2 separate regions of the Homo sapiens genome follow, and region 2 is linked to region 1. The links come from fine-mapping of genetic effects on gene expression. A gene starts in region 1. The other region holds a variant in brackets. All regions are shown on one strand. Distances are between the middles of the regions.

What was found. PIP is the estimated chance that this variant, and not a neighbour inherited with it, causes the effect.
Region 2: its variant is the best candidate, but not a certain one, in a credible set for the expression of TMEM97 in subcutaneous fat (FUSION, PIP 0.77).

The regions. Positions count from the first base shown.
Region 1 is chr17:28,317,708-28,320,613 of GRCh38, reverse strand. It overlaps TMEM97 (transmembrane protein 97), which reads right to left and starts at 1,414. Exons shown (of 3, transcript NM_014573.3): 1 at 1,249-1,414. The coding sequence starts at 1,374. RefSeq lists enhancers at 1,291-1,350, 1,831-2,090, 2,310-2,906.
Region 2 is chr17:28,390,542-28,393,447 of GRCh38, reverse strand. All of the region lies in intron 7 of SARM1 (sterile alpha and TIR motif containing 1), which reads right to left. Among named protein-coding and RNA genes, the nearest start is that of SLC46A1, 14 kb to the left of the region's middle. The variant C/AAC (reference allele first, on the strand shown) is at 1,568.

The sequences.
Region 1 (2,906 bases):
CCCACCCTGTATATGTTTGAGCTTATAATTTAACTCAACTCTCTCAACAGTTGAGGAGGATATAGAGCCCTGACCTGCCCAAGTCACCTCCAGTTCTTGGAAGAACCAAGTCCCCAGACTGCAACTTGCTACACGCTACCTACGCTTTTCCCATGCAAAAGGAGGTCAGAGGTCTTCCAGTTGTGTTTGGTTCTAGAAGCAAACAAAAAAGAGTGACTTATGGGAGTGGTAGAACATTCTTGAGCCGTGGCCTTTTTGGGAGAGTTAGGCCCCTTGAAAAGTCGATGGAAGCTATATTCTCCTTGCAGGAAACAAAAGGCACACACACTTGCACCCATTTTTGGGAGTTCATGACCCTCAGGTAAAGAACCCCTCCTCGGCAGATAAAAAGCATTTAAGGAAAAACAGACGCAAAATAAAATCTTCGGGTAGACAAGTCAGTCCTGCCTACAGTTATAGATAAGATGGAGAAACAAAACTGAGGACAGGAATTCCATGGAAGAAGGTCACAGGGTCCAGATACGAGAAAAAAACCTCAACGAACCGGGAAACTAAAACTATAGCTTTGAAGAAAAAAACAAAGCATTAAAGCAGAGTTTGGGGTTGAAAGAATGCTCTCCAACAACCAGGAAATCGGGATTTTCACCTTTATTTTTACTCAGGAGATCATTGTTACTCGAACCCAATATTGAAGAGCCAATCTGAAAAGATGGCAATTTACTCCTGAGCTCTGGAAGTTGCTGGAACCTGATCTCGAAGCAGTGACGATCTGTGAACGCCCCAGCTGCACCAACCAAGGTGCTAAACCTTCAGACAGGTCTATTTCTACTCGGATTTTTTCTTTGGGATCAGACTGGTATTTTAAAGCCCTTCCAAACAAACAAACAAAAAACCAGAAGCTTAAAGCAAACCTAACATGTGACTTTGGACACCACTTCATCCAGACTACTTCCCTCAGACACTGACAACCGGCCAGAGGTGGAATCGCGGGAAACCTTAAACCCAGGGAAGAAGTGACTTTAAAGGAAACAAAGCGTTCGCCCCCGCCGCTTGGGAGAAGGGGCTGGGATAGAGACAAAGCCCGAGGAAAACACCGAACTAAAGTTGGGTTAGGAGCGGGGGAGGCATGGGCAGGACCCGAGAGAGGCAACTGGAACCCAGAGTGCGCGAGCGCGGAGGAGGTGAAGGCCCTGTGGACGCAGCGCCGGGAGAGCCTCAGCGGGCCGGGATAAGAGGGGCGCCCCTCACCTCGACTGGGTAGAGCTCGCGCGGCAGCACCGCCTGCAGGTCCATGAACAGGGTGATGGGGATGTGGCTGAGGAAGTAGAGGCCCAGCAGCCACTCCACGCAGCGCCTGGTTGCCGGAGCCCCCATAGTCTGTCGGTTGGGCCTGGACCCGCTGATGTGAGAAGAGGGGCCAAATCCGCGCGCCTTCCCAGACCCACGCGCCTCGGTCGCCGCCTTGCCCCCGCGAGGGCTAGGCAGACCGCTTCCATTGGCTGGCGAGAAGAGGAGGCTCGTGGACAGGGGGCGGCACTCCCCACAGGGCGCACCCATTGGTCCGTATAAGTATAGCGCGTGGAGAAGGCGTCTCGTAAGCCATTTCCATTGGCCGCCAGGAGCGCCGTGTGGGCGGGGCTTAGTCACGCCGTTCGGCGCGCGGCTACTCAGTGTAGATTGCGGTTGTGAGCGCGAGCCTAGCGTTTCGGTGCTGGCCGCGTGGTATCCTGGTGTCCCGGCAGCTGCCGGCGGCGCTCCCTTCCCTCGTGGCTCCGTTCGCCACTACAACAGCAGTATGAAAACTGCACTGGCCCTTGGGCCTTCTGCAGTAAGTCAGCATTAAAAAAATAAAGCTGACGCTGTGCACGGTGGGTCATGCCTGTAATGTCTGCACTTTGGGAGCCCGAGGCAGGAGGATGGCTTGAGCCCAGAAGACCAGCCTGGGTAACTTAGTAAGACATTATCTCTACAAAAAATAAAAAATTAGCCAGGTGTGGTGGTGTGCACCTGTAGTCCTAGCTAGTTCGTGTACTAGTGACCAGCGCCTGTGCTGGGCCGCGGTACCCCGGTGCAGTGCGGCCGTCACGGAGCAGGGGTCGCAGAGCGGGGCACGAGCGCCGCGGTGCAGGTTCCCGGCCCAGCCGGGGTTGCGGGTCTGGGGAGGCAGCTGGCCGCGGTGAACAAAGAAGCAGAGGGGAGGACTCGAGGGACGTAGGAGGCAGTAAAATGGACAGGAATCCTCACCGGCTGTGGAGCATGAGGGAAGGTCAAGGATTCGTTTACACGTTCAGCAAATACTGATGTTCATCTCCACGCTGGGCGCAGGCCTGTCTCGGGGCAGGATCGCCGAGGCTGCCATTTGCTAAGAGGGGACACAGGGCAAGGGAGTGCGAGGAAGGAATGCAGCTTGGACTACGTGGACCTTGAGTGGGCTGCAGCGTTGGGTGGAGGAGGCAGTTGGGTGAGCCTGTCTGGAGTCGTAAGCTTGTGAGGCATCCGCCTTTGATGGCGAGCAGAGGGCCTGGGAGAGATCCTGGGGGAGCTCCAGCCTCAGGTCATGGGAGGAGGGGACTGAGATAGGAGCGTACTAGCAGGGGGCTATGTCACAGGGAGGGGCAGCCTGTCAACACTGAGTGATGCCCGCCTGTGGCCCTGTGGGGAACAGTTGTGTCGTGGGGGCAGGAGCCAGGGAGTAAGAAAGTGGGGAAATGGAGGCAGGAAGTGTAGACAGCTGGTCACGAAGGGGAGAAGACATGGGGCAGTAGCTGGAGAGAGATGCACTCGAGAGTTTATTTTGCAGGTGAGAAAGACTTGAGCTAGTTTAGTTTTGACAGTGGGAGAGGTTACCCCTACTCGAGAAGAGCAGGAAATGCGGCTCAAAGCCCTGGAGGAGGCGGAGGGAATGG
Region 2 (2,906 bases), 73 kb before region 1:
TCCCAAGTAGCTGGGACCACAGGCGTGTGCCACCATGTCCGGCTAATTTTTTGTATTTTTTAGTAGAGATGGGGTTTCACCATGTTGCCCAGGCTGGTCTCAAACTCCTGGCCTCAAGTGATCCTCCCACCTTAGCATCCCAAAGTGTTGGGATCACAGGCCTGCACTACCACACTCGTTCCTCTGTTTTCTAATATATAAAGCAGGATTAATGATAGTCCCTGTCTTCAGGATTGTTCCATGGAATAAGCGCAACATTCCATGGCAAGTAATTAGAACAGTGCTTTGCATGCAGTGTATGCTTAATACGTAATAGGTGTTATTATTTCCTCTTCTGTAAAGTGGGGATAATAAAACCTACCTCAAAGCGTTGTTCTGAGGAATTATTTGCTAGTAATCGGGTTCCATTAAGTGCTTATTGAATGTTTTTCTTCCTCTCAAGAGGGAACCAAAGGGATTTTACTTTTTTGAGTGCAGTTCACTTGTGGTTTTTCCCTATTGATTACCCACTAATGTGGCTTCAGGGAAAGGAGTTTTAAAACCAGAGGCAATTAAGCACCAGAAACAACCAAAGAGGGATGACGGAGCCTCTGGGGCCGGTCCAAGACAAAGGCTCCTCTCACCTCTTTGCCATCTGCTGGGACGACAAGGGGTGCCAAGCATTCTTGGGAAGTGGAGCCTTCCTGGGGAAAGAACATGCGTAACTTCGTCCTTGACTGGCTTCCTGGGGAGCCGCTCCATTTTACAGATGGAGAGAAAAAAGCCCAGAGAGGAAGGGATTTCCTCCTAAGCCACACACACGCCCAGCCCACGAGGGGCCGGTCCTCTGACTCAAGCCTCGAGAGTCCAAGTCCAGGCTGTTTCAGCCAAGCCCTGCTGCCTTTCTGCTGAGCATTGGAATGAATCCTGAGCCTGCAGCAATTTATTTGGAAATTTTTAGAAATTTGTTTCATCCAGAATTATACAAAACCAAAGACAGTACAAATTATTCATCGCACAGATTCAGAGGCTGGCCAAGAAAGGGATAATGGCGGCCGTGTGTGGTGGCTCATGTCTGTAATCCCAGCACTTTGGGAGGCCAAGGCGGGCGGATCACGAGGTCAGGAGATCGAGACCATCTTGGCCAAGATGGTGAAACCCCGTCTCTACTAAAAATATATATATATAAATTAGCTGGATATGGTGGCGTGTGCCTGTAGTCCCAGCTACTCAGGAGGCTGAGGCAGGGGAATCACTTGAACCCGGGAGGCGGAGGTTGCAGTGAGCCGACCAAGATCTCACCACTGCACTCCAACCTGGTGATAGAGCAAGACTGTGCCTCAAAAAAAAAAAAATAATTAAATAAATAAAAGAAAGGGATAATGGTTTGTTCAGGATCACCTAGCTGGTTGAGAACGAAAACAATTAGAGTCAAGTCCTCTGGCTGGGCACGGTGGCTCATGCCTCTAATCCCAGAACTTTGGGGAGCCGAGGCAGGCACTGAACTCCAGGCTTGAGCTCAGGAGTTCGGGACCAGCCTGGGTGACATAGCGAAACCCTATCTCTACTGGAAAAAAAAAAAAAAAAA[C/AAC]GGAGTCAAGTCCTCTAACCTGGTAAATCTACTAGATATGTATGGCTCTCCCAGGCATGGCATCTCAGCTTCATCAGTATCACTTGTCTGCTTAATCATTGATTCAATTGTTCTATAAACTCCTCTACAGCCTCAGCCTCTCTCTCTCTCTCTTTTTTTTTTTTTTTTTTTTTGGTGCAATTGCATAGAGCCTCCTTTGTACCATGCATGGTTTTAGGCACCAGGGACACAGATGAATGAGGCAAGGTCTGAAGTCTCATGGAGCTCACAGACACTCTTTTCTTTCTCTCAAAAGGCTGCCTGCCACGTGCTCTGGGTTATCAGCCATGTTCTTCCTGGATGCTCAACTGCCCCAGTGCCCCTCCCCAAACCAGGCCTAGTACTCAGCCCCTCCTACATGGCCTCTGGGGCTTGACTCCACACTCCATGTGGACTGCATTCCAGTGTCAGAGCCTTCATCCTAAGACCCACCGCCCTGGCATCTTCTCCTTCATGGGCTCCTTGATTTCCAGTGCTTTAAGCACAGGTCTTCTCCTGCCTTTAGACACTGCTTTACCTGGTTTCCATGGTTCTTATCCAGCCAGTGGTGTGCTGCTAACTTTATAGTAACTAGCTATTCATGGGGGAAGAAAACCCAACCAGCCAATCAACCAAACTAACAAAACTTTGATTTGTAGTGGTTGCCAATTTCCTTGGTGTAAATACTCCCACCATGGCTGATGACAAGCTACCAACATGACATCACTGGATGTGGAGTTGTGAAGAGATACAATCATCTCTGGTGTCAACCGAATCCAGCCCTACCCCATCACCTCCCCTCACACCCCCTCAGAGCTGTGCCATAGAATGCAGTGTGGATCTTGGGAAAGTGATGAGCTTTGGAGTCAGATAGATGGAATTTGAAGCCTAGCTTTTCTGATTTCTACACTAGTAGTGCAGCCAGGGGAACATTATTCTACTTTTCTGAGCCTCAGTTTCTTCATCTGTGATATGGAGAAAGCAGTACCAAGATGTATGTGGGCTTTCAGCACTGTTCTCCTCCCTACCTTTATTCCTTTGCTCATGCTGTTACCCTGGCCTGGGATGCCTTCTATTCCACTTACCCAGATTCTTAAGATTCTTCTCAAGACCTGCTTCCTCCATGAAGTCTTCCCTGATTATTCCAGTCCTTTGAGGACTAAACTCTGATTTTTTTTTTTTTTATCTTGCCCAAATTCCTACCTAAGGAGCCTAGGGAGTCATGCCCTACAAACCATAAAGTCTTATCGGAGGAGGTTTTAATTTTAACCCTATATAGCGTGGTCTGCTTTCTAACCTGACTCTAGCATAACATCACATA